Homo sapiens: one gene and its partners. The protein of the gene in region 1 purifies or fractionates together with the protein of each later gene. This does not show direct contact. Each region holds a gene or a part of one and is shown in the gene's direction. Other genes may lie near its edges. The genes, in order: SERPING1, SELE, GALNT12 and ZNG1C.

The links.
Region 2: the proteins of SERPING1 (region 1) and SELE purify together in Homo sapiens (affinity purification with western blotting, with the first as the bait; one study listed by BioGRID). This does not show direct contact.
Region 3: the proteins of SERPING1 (region 1) and GALNT12 purify together in Homo sapiens (affinity purification with mass spectrometry; one large-scale study listed by BioGRID and IntAct). This does not show direct contact.
Region 4: the proteins of SERPING1 (region 1) and ZNG1C purify together in Homo sapiens (affinity purification with mass spectrometry; 2 studies listed by BioGRID and IntAct, with this or other methods). This does not show direct contact.

Annotation. Positions count from the first base shown.
Region 1 is NC_000011.10:57,607,617-57,611,185, forward strand, and holds part of SERPING1 (plasma protease C1 inhibitor precursor), read left to right. Parts: intron 1-3,569. UniProt on the Homo sapiens protein: Serine protease inhibitor, which acrs as a regulator of the classical complement pathway. Forms a proteolytically inactive stoichiometric complex with the C1r or C1s proteases. May also regulate blood coagulation, fibrinolysis and the generation of kinins.
Region 2 is NC_000001.11:169,724,076-169,727,644, reverse strand, and holds part of SELE (E-selectin precursor), read left to right. Parts: intron 1-119; coding exon 120-296; intron 297-838; coding exon 839-946; intron 947-1,716; coding exon 1,717-1,738; intron 1,739-1,843; coding exon 1,844-1,901; 3' UTR 1,902-1,916; intron 1,917-3,135; 3' UTR 3,136-3,569. UniProt on the Homo sapiens protein: Cell-surface glycoprotein having a role in immunoadhesion. Mediates in the adhesion of blood neutrophils in cytokine-activated endothelium through interaction with SELPLG/PSGL1. May have a role in capillary morphogenesis.
Region 3 is NC_000009.12:98,835,130-98,838,698, forward strand, and holds part of GALNT12 (polypeptide N-acetylgalactosaminyltransferase 12), read left to right. Parts: intron 1-119; coding exon 120-237; intron 238-1,842; coding exon 1,843-2,019; intron 2,020-3,569. UniProt on the Homo sapiens protein: Catalyzes the initial reaction in O-linked oligosaccharide biosynthesis, the transfer of an N-acetyl-D-galactosamine residue to a serine or threonine residue on the protein receptor.
Region 4 is NC_000009.12:68,269,477-68,273,045, forward strand, and holds part of ZNG1C (zinc-regulated GTPase metalloprotein activator 1C), read left to right. Parts: intron 1-3,569.

The DNA of each region.
Region 1 (3,569 bases):
GTGCCAAAGAGAGCTACTCAGTAAAAGTGGCTGGAAGACTTCATAGAGGAGGGTTTTTTTCGAGACAGGGTCTCACTCTGTCACTCAAGCTGCAGTGCATTGACATGATCTCAGCTCACTGCAATCTCTGCCTCCCGAGTTCAAGCAGTTCTCCTGCCTCAGCCTCCCAAGTAGCTGGGACTACAGGAGCCCGCCACCACACCTGGCTAATTTTTGTATTTTTAGTAGAGACGGGGTTTCACCATGTTAGCCAAGCTGGTCTCGAACTCCTGACCTCAAGTGATCCACACCCTCAGCCTCCCAAAGGGCTGGGATTACAGGCATGAGCCACAGCGCCCAGCTGAGGAGGTTATTTTTGACCATTCTTTGCTCAGTTATTTATCCACTCATGGACTTATCCACCCATCTATCCATCCCTATCTAATGTATTTGACCATTCATGACTCATTTAGCAGAACCAGGACAGCCTGTATAAGGCACAGAAGAGTGAATATATGTGACAGGTCCAGAGCATTGTTCAAATTCAAGATACGTTGGGGGAGGTATAAATATGAGATTTTTTTCAAATCAATTGGAATGGCTATTTAATCAAAGCCATAGATGTTAGGTGGAAAGTAGGAATTAAGAACTTAACAAGTTAGGTTTAAATGTAACTATTCGAATTATAAGAACAAGTATTTCCTCTCTAAAAATGTTTTTAAAGTTTCACACAAAACTCTAAACCAAAAATCATTGTAAAAATCCCTTGGGAGTAGACTGTTGAAACCATTGAGGTGAGGTGATAGGTTAAGGTGAGCATTCTGGACATATAATATCAATAATAAATATTCAAATACAAAGCAGGTATAATATGAAGAGTAATTTCTATCTCCCCAAGCCAATATGAGTTTTGTTTGTTTGTTTGTTTTTCTTTTGAGATAAAGTCTCATTCTGTTGCCCAGGCCGGAGTGCAGTGGCACAATCCCAGCTCTCTGTAACCTCTGCCTCCCAGGTTCAAGCGATTCTCCTGCCTTAGCCTCCCTAGTAGCTGGGATTATAGGTGCCTGCCACCACTCCCAGCTAATTTTTGTATTTTTAGTAGAGATGGGGTTTCACCATGTTGGCCAGGCTGGTCATGAACTCCTGACCTCAAGTGCTCGTCCGTCTTCGGCCTCCTAAAGTGCTGGCATTACAGGCGTGAGCCACTGCACCCAGCCTGAGTTTTTTTTTTTTTTTTAAGCCAAAGGAGGAGGAGTAGTTTTGTGCACAAAAGCCACTATTTAGAGTTCCTTAGGTTTTAAACAGATAATTAATTTAATGTACTAACAAATGCAAAATTAAAATTTTACTTATGCCTTTTAATTTTAAGCTGAACTTGCTACATTAAGAGTAGGGTGATTTGGCTGGGCGCAGTGGCTCATGCCTATAATCCCAGCACTTTAGGAGGCTGAGGCAGGTGGATCACTTGAAGCTAAGAGTTTGAGACCAGCCTGGCCAACATGGTGGAATTCTGTCTCTACTAAAAATACAAAAATTAGCCAGGCATGGTGGCACATGTCTGTAATCCCAGCTACTCAGGATGCTAAGGCACAGAATCACTTGAACCTGGGAGGCAGAGGTTACAGTGAGCCAAAATCGCGCCACTGCACTCCAACCTGGGCAACACAGCAAGACTCTGTCTCAAAACACAAAAAAAGAATAGGCTGGGTACAGTGGCTCACGCCTGTAATCCCAGCACTTTGGGAGGCCGAGGCAGGTGAATCACCTGAGGTCAGGAGTTCGAGACCAGCTTGGCCAACATTGTGAAACCCCATCTCCATTAAAAATACAAAAAATAAGCCGGGTGTGATGGTGCACGCCTGTAATCCCAGATACTTGTGAGGCTGGGACAGAAGAATCGCTTGAACCCGGGAGGCGAAGGTTGCAGTGAGCCGAGATCATGCCACTGCATTCCAGCCTGAGCGACAGAGTGAGACCTTGTCTCAGAAAAAAAAAAATAGGGTGATTTTTATATAAAAACACTCTCATTTGTTCTTGAATTAATTGCCATATTGAACAGATTAAACTCCTTTAAACCATTTTTTCTATCTACAAACATAATTAGTATTCCCATAAGCATTTTAAGCTCCCTTTAAAAATTTAATATGCTCGATTTTCTTTTTTCTTTTATTTATTTATGTAGTTTTCCCAGACAGGGTCTTACTCTATCACCCAGTCTGGAGTACAGTGACACAATCCTCACTTACTGTAACCTCAAGCTCCTTGGGATGAAGCAGTCCTCCCACCCTAGCCTCTTAAGTAGCTGAGATTCCAGGCATGAGCCACCTCACCCAGCTGATTTTCTTTTTAAACACATCTAATACCTGACAGGTCGTAATTACGACTGTGCTTGGCCATATCATCCTAACACCTAAAGCTCACTTGTAAACTGAAAATTAAATTTGAAGGGTGAATTAACTTCTAGCCAACATTCCAATATCATTCTCACATTTAATGAAATTATCCTACAACTTTGCTTAAAAGCATAAAACTAGCATGTCAGAGTCTCTTAAAAATTACAATCACTATTTTAAATAACAAACATACAGGTTACCCTGAACTTAACACCTGGTTTTAACATGATGAAGTTGGTTTCTTTTGTCATTCTTATACTAAATTCTAAATCTTCCTGGCACTTAAGGATATTTACCCAAGGAAGGGGGTGAGATTTACCGGCTCAGGTACACCGAGGTTACTGGCTTGAAAATTCAAGACCACAGCATGGTAAATTTTTCTTCAGAGATTCAAGGTTCATACATAGGACTTGAAGGGCACATGCTACTCAAATGAGTATATCCAACTTGAGTGCTACATCAACAGGGACCCCATGTCCACTCTTTTCAGTCGAAATTGGCTTACTATCTACTTCTTCTGGGCTATTCAGGTTCCGACAATTGATTGCTTTCAGTTAATTTCTTTATTGCCCAGTTGAATTCTGCATTCTTCTAGATTCTTTTTGTTCCTTCAGCCTCAATCATAATACCATTTAATGACAGTCTCATATCCTATTAGACTAGGGTTTCTCAGCCTTGGCACTATTGACATATTGGGTCAGATAATTCTTTGTCCTGTGCATTGTAGAATTTAGCATCTTCCTTAGCTTCTACTCACTAGAAGCCAGTAGCACTGTGTGCACATCCTCCTTGCCCCCTGCCAGCTATGACAACCAAAATGTCTCCAGACATTACCAAATGTCCACTGAGAGGCAAATTCACTCCGAGTTGACAACCCCTGTATTAAACCCAGGGGCCCTGCACTTCTTACATACTTTTGTCTGGTCACCAGTTGAAAGTCCTTCTTCTTTTTTTTTTCTCTTTTTGAGATGGAGTCTCGCTCTGTCACCAGGCTGGAGTGCAGTGGCATGATCTCGGCTCACTGCAGCCTCCACCTCCCGGGTTCAAGCAATTCTCCTGCCTCAGCCTCCTGAGTAGCTGGGATTACAGGCACGTGCCACCACCCAGCTAATTTTTGTATTTTTAGTAGAGGTGGGGTTTCATCATGGTGGCCAGGATGGTCTCAATCTCTTGACCTCGTGATCCGCCCACCTCGGC
Region 2 (3,569 bases), on another chromosome or scaffold:
CTACATGCTGAAAACTAAGTAGCGCTTACACTTTACATTCATTGTTGACTTTTAAGCAAGTTTTGGAAGTTTTCCAGTAGATTTTTCTGAAACTCTGCCTGTGTACCTAACATTTGCAGTGGTAAAATGTTCAAGCCTGGCAGTTCCGGGAAAGATCAACATGAGCTGCAGTGGGGAGCCCGTGTTTGGCACTGTGTGCAAGTTCGCCTGTCCTGAAGGATGGACGCTCAATGGCTCTGCAGCTCGGACATGTGGAGCCACAGGACACTGGTCTGGCCTGCTACCTACCTGTGAAGGTGATGCATTGATTGATGGTGGTTGTCTGGTGATTAAAAAGAAAAAGGGGGAGCTATCTTGTTACAGTAATCAACTATTCATTATATCCAAACCAGAAAGTTCGCCCAGGTTGACAAGTTGTGAATATTAAGTTGTATGGGGATAGAGAAAAAACAGAAGTTGCATGTTGATGGAAAGGGTAGAATTCTGACAACTGGAAAAAGGAGACAGAGAGAGGAGAGGAGAAAGGGGAAATGGAAAACAAGAGGGAGTGAGAGCAAGAGAGCAAGCAAGTGCAGTGTTTATTAACCAAGGTGTGGTGTGGTATTGTGAACGAGCTTGGCAAGTTAGAGTTCTGCCTGCCAATGGTGGAAATAGCTTCAAAGGTGGCTTGGAGCAGATCTCAAAGGCCTGTAATGCCACATCTCTGCTTCTTGTATTAAACTAGATAGCTCTTCTGCTCCTAGTAATGAATGTACAGAAAAAAGGCCAAAGGGACAGGACGGAGAGACTTTAACATCAATTCTTCCTCATGACCTTTCTTCGTCTCTTACTTCCTTAGCTCCCACTGAGTCCAACATTCCCTTGGTAGCTGGACTTTCTGCTGCTGGACTCTCCCTCCTGACATTAGCACCATTTCTCCTCTGGCTTCGGAAATGCTTACGGAAAGGTGAGGAAGTTTATGAATGTACTTCAAAAATGTTTTTGAAAATACATTTCTTTCTCATTGATAAGTCATGGTCTTGCTTACTGATTTAAACAATAATTAGAATCTGGATAAAATGCAGTATAATTAAGCAGAAGTATTAAGAAAAGAGTTAGTAGTACAACTCAGTGTGGGAAGTGTTTCAGGAAATAAAAATGTTAGTCGTGCCTAATATTGTACAACTCCAGGGGGTGCTATTCATGTTGAATTATATGATGCCTCCCGGAATTGTGCAATGGAACTGCCATGATGAGCACTCTAAGGAAAATGGATAAAATTCTTCCTAAGGAGATTTATTTGGAGTACAGGCTTAAATTTGAGAGTCTCTCATAAGGAATATGGAAGCACATCTGACTACACTCATGGTTTGTTTGGCTTACATGTTTAAGAGTACTTAAAACATTTTTGAGTTAAGTTCTGACGTTTACAAAATAGGAAATCTCACATTTAAATTAAGACTTTGGACTTCTCATGAAAAATTGGGAGCTGAATTGGGCAAGATGACCCCGTAGCTATTTGCTGGCATTAGGAAGCTGCTATGCCCTTTGGATGGCTGTGCACTTTGCATTTTACCCTAGATGCCACAGAGCCATGCTTGTGCTCTGATTATTACAGAGGCCCTGAAGCATCGAGTTTGCAACACTTGATGAATTAAGTCATATTGTATCTGGATTTAATATATCCTTAAAAGTCATTTAGTCTGAATTAATGGTTGTTTGTCTTTTCTTTTGCAGCAAAGAAATTTGTTCCTGCCAGGTAAGTTGCATTCTTATACAAAGCATGCCATTGAACATTCCACATATTTTTCTCTCTTCATGTTGGAAGACAGTGCTTTACCTAGTGTTCTCATGTATTCCACAGCAGCTGCCAAAGCCTTGAATCAGATGGAAGCTACCAAAAGCCTTCTTACATCCTTTAAGTTCAAAAGAATCAGGTAAGACTTGTAAATCACAAATGGTTATGAGAGAGGTATCTTCTCTACATGCTCTGTTTCTCCTTGAACCCTCCAAACTTGCCAATATCTTAGGGAGGGAGCAGGGGAGAAATCATCACCTGGGTATTGTTCTGGAAAGTTGCTTTATTTTTTGTAGAAGGAGAGGAAAGAAACGGATCTAGCTTTATTGTGTAATTTCATTTATGATAGATAATAATAATGAAGATAGCTGACCCTTACATTGCACTTATTATATTCTGGGAATTTTTCTAAGCTAGGAACTCTGAGATAGGGGCTGGTACTATATTTCTTATCTTTTCTTTTTACTTTTTTTTTTTTTAATTTTGAGATGGAGTCTCATTCTGTTGCCTAGACTGGAGTGCAGTGGCATGATCTTGGCTCACTGCAACCTCCACCTCCTGCGTTCAAGCAATTCTCCTGCCTCAGCCTCCTGAGTAGCTGGGATTACAGGTGCCTGCCACCACACCCAGCTAATTTTTGTATTTTTAGTAGAGATTTTGTATTTTTTCGTCATGTTGGCCAGGCTGATCTTGAACTCCTGATCCACCCGCCTTGGCCTCTCAAAGTGCTGGGATTACAGGCGTGAGCCACTGGGCCTGGCCTGTTACTTTATTTCTTATCACACAGATGAAGAAAATGAGACAGAGAAGTTAAGTAAATTGTCTGAAATCTCAAAGCTAGTAAGTGGTGTAGCCAGGATTCAAACTCTGGCAGTCTGGTTCTAAAATTTGTGTTCTTAACTACTCCGACCTGCTTTGAGAGAATTTGGAAAGGTCAAGTCCCTCTGAATACTTTTTAAAAAATTAAAATAACTTTTTTTGTGTGTGCGGTTTTAAGTTTACAGAAAAATTGAGCAGAAAGCACAAAGAGTTCCAACATATCTCCCCACCACCCCTTCAATTCCCCCTGTTATTAACATCTTATATTAGTGTTACAACTGATGGGCCAATATTGATACATTATTATTCATTAATGTCCACAGGCTACATTAGAATTCACTCTGTGCTGTGTTGTATATTCTGTAGGTTTTGACAGAGGTATAATATGTAGACATCATCACTGTCCTAACTGAATAGAATTCGATGTTCCTACATGGTCTATCCTAGTGAGAGTGTCTGTGTTAGAAGGTACATTTTGTTGTCATGATCAGTATGCAGAATATTAAGTGTTCTGATGACATGCATGTTTATATTTACAGAAACAGGTGCATCTGGGGAACTAGAGGGATACACTGAAGTTAACAGAGACAGATAACTCTCCTCGGGTCTCTGGCCCTTCTTGCCTACTATGCCAGATGCCTTTATGGCTGAAACCGCAACACCCATCACCACTTCAATAGATCAAAGTCCAGCAGGCAAGGACGGCCTTCAACTGAAAAGACTCAGTGTTCCCTTTCCTACTCTCAGGATCAAGAAAGTGTTGGCTAATGAAGGGAAAGGATATTTTCTTCCAAGCAAAGGTGAAGAGACCAAGACTCTGAAATCTCAGAATTCCTTTTCTAACTCTCCCTTGCTCGCTGTAAAATCTTGGCACAGAAACACAATATTTTGTGGCTTTCTTTCTTTTGCCCTTCACAGTGTTTCGACAGCTGATTACACAGTTGCTGTCATAAGAATGAATAATAATTATCCA
Region 3 (3,569 bases), on another chromosome or scaffold:
CGGGATATGCTTAGAGATGACAGATGAACAGATGAAAGGGCTCGTGGTGGGAAGGTAGTTGGATAACTGTGATGGTTTTCTGCTGTCTACAGTGAAATAAGGATATCATACTTTTTTAGGTCTCCAACAATGGCTGGTGGGCTGTTTGCTGTGAGTAAGAAATATTTTGAATATCTGGGGTCTTATGATACAGGAATGGAAGTTTGGGGAGGAGAAAACCTCGAATTTTCCTTTAGGGTAAGTATTTCAGTCTTCTCTTTGGACATGTTCTTAACTGATTCTCTCTTTGGGAACGATGGGATTTGCTGTAAGAGCCTGGTGGACCCTGAAAGATGATGACACGCATATCCTATAAACATGCTTGCTTTCTTGTTTTAGCTTTTTAAAAAGTGTACTTTTTCTAGATTTGGGGCCAGCAAGGGCCTTGCGAGTCACATAGTTCTCTCTCACTCTATGGAGAGGAGGAAATGAAACCAGGAGAGAGGTGACTTGCTCAGGGTTAGGTTCCTCCTGATCCTGTCTTCTGGAGCCTTTACTTGATTAATTCCTTATGAAGTGGCCTCTTTATTTAGCACAGTGCCTTTCAAACTTTGACAGATGTAAGAATTTCTTTTTTTTTTTTTTGAGACGGAGTCTCGCTCTGTCGCCCAGGCTGGAGCGCAGTGGCACGATCTCAGCTCACTGCAACCTCCGCCTCCTGTGTTGAAGTGATTCTTCTGCCTCAGCCTCCCGAGTAGCTGGGATTATGGGCATGTGCCATCATGCCCGGCTAATTTTTGTATTTTTAGTATAGACGAGGTTTCACCATGTCATCCAGGCTGATCTCAAACTCCTGACCTCAGGTGATCCACCCGCCTTGGCCTCCCAAAGTGCTGGGATTATAGGTGTGAGCCACTGCACCCAGCCAACACATGTAAGAATTGCTGGGTAAACTTGTTAGAAAGACAGATTCACAAGCACAATCTAGAATTCTAGCTAGATTTGATAGCTTTAGGGTGGGACCAAGATTCTGCTTTTTGTAACAAGCCTTCCTACTGATGCTACTCTACATGGCCCGTGAAAACCGTATTGGAAAACTCCTAGCATTTCAGTAGATTTTCCAGTTAATGAAGTCTTACATTTTAAGCATCAAAACTTTGTGTAAATGTTGGTGCTTTTCAGTGGAAAATTAAGATTTTTAATAATATTTTATATGGTGTTCTGCCCTCATAAAAACTGAATAAACAAGAATTTGGCCTTCTACCGAGGACTCACGCCCTCTGTAATAAGTACCAGATGCTGTGCTTGGTTGTCCCATCTTTGGGAAAATGAGATATTCAAGGCTGTCAGTCCCAGTGTGAGATGGGCTCAGATGCCTTCGCCTGTTGAGTCTTTGGGTGTGCTTTTAATGGTCTCTCTGCCTCTTCCTTAGGTGTCAGGCTGCTCTACCTGTTTCTAGACGCTCTTCCTTTCCCCCTTCCAAACCTCTTTTCTTCCTTGCTGCTTTCCTATCTTCTGTGGCTAGGAGATCAGGTAATCAAGCCTGTGTTTTCTGTAATGAGTAAGTGGGTTGCCAGCGAGGTCTCTGTGGATGCTCCTGTGAGTCAAGTGCATGAGCTTTAGTGCATGGACTTTGGGGTCTTGGTTCCCACAGCTTATATGTTTTGGGGGCTGCTTTCTTGCTCTTTACCCACATTCTGTGTCATGAGTGTGCCGGGTAGGTGGCCTCCTGCCCGATGGAGGCTGAGCATCTTGGCAGTGTCCATCATGCCTTGCGTGTGCCTGGCCTCTTTGCTGCAGATACTATGGACCCGCAGCTCATCCCCTGCTCACCACCTGGCCTCTCCTTTTCTCTGTGTGCAGATCTGGCAGTGTGGTGGGGTTCTGGAAACACACCCATGTTCCCATGTTGGCCATGTTTTCCCCAAGCAAGCTCCCTACTCCCGCAACAAGGCTCTGGCCAACAGTGTTCGTGCAGCTGAAGTATGGATGGATGAATTTAAAGAGCTCTACTACCATCGCAACCCCCGTGCCCGCTTGGTGAGTTCCTCGGCCCACCTGCACTCCATCTGGCTTCATCTGAACAACAGCAGCTAATCGTGGCTTCCCCAACATAGTCGATCTGGTTCCAGAAATAGAGAATAAATTGGGTGCTCAGATACGAGTAAGGGGAGAATTTATTCCTCCATTTATAATAATTATATGCAGTCAAATCTTCTTATTTACAGCTGTTATAGTGCATAAAGCCACCACAAATGCTGAATTCATGAAAACAGAGCCATTGTTCTTAGGGGAAATACAGGGTTAGGTTCCTGCCAGACTTGGGGCACAGTTTTGTCAGCAGATCAATACAGAACCTTGTTTTCTATGTGTTTCTGTTCAAAGACACCTGTTTAACATATATCGTTGCATCATTAACATTGCACTCATGGCTAACAGCACGGTAACTCATGCCAGAATGAAGCTTACCTAGCACGTGTTATTTTCTCTTCATCACAACCTTCTTGCATTTAGGAACACTAGGTAGCACTTCAGCACTACGACTGGGGGACATTCTAGAATAGCTGGTGCAGTCACCAATACAAAGCAGGAAAAAATGTGGTGCCCAACAGATGGTGAAAAGAACACTGGTTTACAGGATGAGAGCTGAAACAAGAAGGCGGTGTGTGCCCTTGTTATATATCACCTGGAAATGGGAGTTAAGTGTTGGGCAACTCAAATTTTTTGTCCATGAATGTGTGTGAAAATTAGAAAACACCACAAGTATTGATTTGGAGGTTACAAATCAATTTTATTATAGCATGTAGGGAAATTCAGATACAGAACCAGTAAATAATGAGGATGGACTGTACCAACATAGATAGTTGGGGATACCTGGTGTCACAGGCCAGGCATTGTCCATGTGTTTTGGTTTTCCTCTTTGTAGCCAGTAGGGTGAGTCCACAAACACAGGGTACAAGTTAAGGCACAGTTCTTTACCTTAAAGCTATTGCTCAGGGACACATCCGCCTTATTAGTTAGGGGTCTGTTACCTCCCTCTAGAGCCTTCTTGTTAGCACCCTGGAAGCTTCCTTTTCTAAAACAGGGAGTCTGTTCTGCTTCCATTTCCAGATGGAAGGACTACTGGAGAGTGGCCCAGGCCCCCGCTGCTACTCTTTCTCACCATATGTCATGGTCATGGAAACCCCCCCACCGCCAGCCTAACAGATGTCTATCTTCCTCCCCACTCAGAGGCCTTGCTGGGCCCATCTCTCTGACCAATGGTGAAGGTGTGCCTGCAGTCACTGAAGTCTCAGCTCAGTTGGCTTGCTCCCCTGGGTCTCAGCCACACACTACAGGGACACTGGCCCATCCACCCACTGCACTGAGTCTGTCGGAGGCTGAGGTTCAGCCCAGACTGTGTCCTTCCTCATAGCGATTTATCTCAGGGACTTGTTTTCTGGTCCGGATCCTTGCTCTGCCTCTACCTCCGGGACCATTGTGGATGAGGGATCTGCCTCTTCTTTCCCAGGTCTTGGGCTTCAGATGAAACACAGTCCACTGCCTCTGCCCCAGCCAGCTCTGCATGCTCCATGGCAGGGTGCCTGCTT
Region 4 (3,569 bases), on another chromosome or scaffold:
TTAAATTCTGTTTTCCATTGAATGTTATCTTAATTTCAGAAAATTTCTGTGCAGGGTTATTTTATTAAGCTCATTTTTTTTTTTTTTTTTTTTTTTTTTTTTTTTTTTTTTTTGGTGAGAAAGGCTCAGCAGCTGATAGACTCAGCAACAGGCAGCCAGGAGCTCTGAGGCTCACAGCTGGCAGTCTAGTTCCACTCAGTCTCTACTTGAGAAATTCTTTCTTTGGAAGTACAGCAGAGGCCTTAGGTGAGTGGCTTGTCTGCTATGGCAGAGATTAGAGGTGCTGACAGACTGCCATAAGTATTAGGCAGTAACAGCAGCAGCTGCTTATATGCATGTGAACAGCTGGGGAATTAATTTGGTATGCATTCTCAGGAGCCACTCATCTGCTGGCAGAGGTAGCAGAAGAATGCCCTTAGTGTAAGTCCTCTACAACCATACACCAAATGTGCTCCCTGCGTTTCAAATTCCATTGTAGAGAGTCTCTGATAATCTCACTTATACCATGAGCCATTCCTCAGTATCTGTCCTCTTCCTGTTAGTGTTCTACAATTCCTTTCTCCTTAATTTTTCTCCGCTTTACAAAATGTCACACAGACAAGTGCATGATACTTAAACAAGCTTTTAAAAATAATGCTCATAAATAGCTTTGGTTCTGTCATAATATTCGTATTTATAAACATTTTAAGTCAATTCTCTTCTTTTATTTTCATTTCAGAAATATCCATGTCCTGAATAAAAGTTGTGTCTTGATTAGTTTATTATGTAACAATTTAGTGTGTTTGACATTTCTAACTTTTATTTCTAACATTTGCTTTATTATAGAACAATAAACATGCAGTGATTGATTTTTCTTACTTCAAGTGGATGAGTGAGCAAGTGACTAAAATCTTCTGTGAATTCTTCAGTGTATGGTGCTTGCCAATGCATCTGAGAATCTAGGGACTTTCTGAAATAGTACTTCCTTGCTATGAGGACTGAAGTTGGATTAGAATCCTTTTCAATGAAGATCAGATGTCCTGAGTAGAATTCTTACTATTGGGTCCTGAATCTTATATTAAATATTCTCTCAAATTCCTTGAGGCATAGCAACTTGAGCTTACCAGTTTAGAAACTGGAGATTTGGGCTGGGCACGGTGGCTCACGCCTGTAATCCCAGCACTTTGGGAGGCCAAGGTGGGCGGATCACGAGGTCAGGAGATGGAGACCATCCTGGCTAACACTGTGAAACCCCATCTCTACTAAAAATACAAAAAATTAGCTGAGGCTGGTGGTGGGCGCCTGTAGTCCCAGCTACTCAGGAGACTGAGGCAGGAGAATGGCGTGAACCCGGGAGGCGGAGCTTGCAGTGAGCTGAGATCGCACCACTGCACTCCAGCCTGGGTGACAGAGCGAGACTCTGTCTCAAAAAAAAAAAAACAAACAAACAAAAAACCCGGAGATATGGTTAACAAAATAGTCAAAGTCACTCTTATAGAAGTTTTGTTTTATTTTTTGTTTTTTAAAATTTTTTTACCATTTTGTAGCTGACAAGTACTGACAATAAACTGCTATAAGCATGTGTAGAAAAAGGCTCACCTTGAGTAGTTAAGAGTAAGGAAAAGGAATAGTGTGTAGCATCGTCTTAGTGGTAAGACTTAAGTTGATTTAGTAGCAAATGGAAGTACTAGTGAACCACATAGATTTCAGAAGTAGGAGTAACAGGTTAGAAGATGTGTCATTTTAATCTTCTCTAGACTTTTTCTTAATTTTTAGAAATGTAAGTGGACTGAACAGAGGAAAACCAAAACACAGCTGGTCAATAATAAGTTAAATTAATTTGACAAACTGCCTGCTATGCATTTCATAGCATTTTAAGGACTATATAAGCAATGGATAAGGCAAAAACTCTGCCTTTAAGGAGATCAGTCATTGGGGGGAAACAGAAGCAAACAAACAAAAAGGCAACATAATAGATATTAATATTAATACAAGAATTTTAAAAGCACAGAGTTCTATAATAATAGGAAAATAGAGGGAATGATTGCTCAACTTTTCTTGAAAAAGAGTCAGGAAAATATTGACCGAGAAGGCAGTCATTGACCTGAGTCTTAAAGAATGAATAAGGTTTTTACAGATGGAGTAGGGTAGGGATAACTTTCCAGGTATAAGGAAGATTTTGTATTCCAGGGACCTTTGAATATTTTAGAATGGCTAGAAAACTTGGTATTATGTAGCACAGAAAAAGTGGTATGACTGAAGAGATAGAGAACTTACCACAAAGGGTCTTGAATGCCATGATACATAGTTTGGATTTTCTTCTGTAGGGAGCAAGGAGTTAGTGAAGGATTTTAAAAGCAACATGACTCTTGGGAGGTAGATTCAATGTGAGACTAATCTCCGAGGTATAGGAAATACAGGAAGGAGGAGCAACAGGTCGGGTAGTGGTGGAAGCAGGTTTGGAAAATGTGATTGGTTTTGTAAACGTTTTTGAGTTTGAAGTGCCACTGGGGAAGGCTTTTGGAAATTTATTTCCAGAGTTCAAGACTGAGCTATCATTGCAGTTTGCTCAGCTATTTACTGAGCTATCTACTGTCAATTTGGATAGTATCTACAGTTTGCATTGTAGATACTGGATACTTGGATTGGCTGGTGCACCCTGTTTATGAGACTCACTGGAGTTTGAAGAGCTGACCACTGGAAAATATCCCTAAGCAGTAGCTGCAATTCCACCCCCACCGAGGAGAGCCAAAACCCTCTTCGTTTTCACTCTCCTGTCCTTGGTCTTAAGCTACTTAAAGCAGCCTTTAGACATAGGGAAAAATTGAAAGCCTCTCTTTTAAGAAAAACATTAGGTACTTCTGGAATAGAGAGTTCAAGAAATTAGGAGAAAAATGAACTTTTGAAGCTTTTTCTTTCCCTTTTTTGTTTACTTCATTCTCTTACTCAGTTTTAAAATGCTGGTAATGGTCTTTTTTTTCTTTTTTTTTTTTTTCTTGGCGATTTTAATGCTTTGGAAAAGATCTCATGGTTTTATCTCCAAAGGAGGAAATTAATTTGATGCCATGGAAATTAGTTTTCTAGTCGTATGCCTTGAATGAGTGAAGAATTTCTTTTTCATGGTGGTACTAAATTTGGGGAAAGCTATAGAAACTTTCATCTGGAAGCTTACACTTTTCCTCTTTTTTGAAAATTTGGTGAGAGACTTGGATATTTTATTATTTTCTGTAAAAGAGTGTAATTTGTTATACAGGTCTAATATTGATCCTTTTTTGGAAGTATGGAAAGAATCTGAGTATAAAGCAGAATTACCTCTGGATGGCATGTATTCTCAAGGACACTGTCACAGTGAAACAGTTTATTTAGAAGCTTGTGTTTCCAAACTGTTGAATTTGATATTCACAAAATTGGCATGTGTAAACTTTATTAAACTTTAAGCTATTTCCTAAGATGAAGATGACAAACTTGGAGGGAAACTTCATTCATTTGGTTTATTTTTATTTTTATTTTTATTTATTTTTATCTTTTTGAGACAGAATCTCACTCTGGTTTGAGACAGAATCTCACTCTGTCCCCCAAGTTGGAGTGTG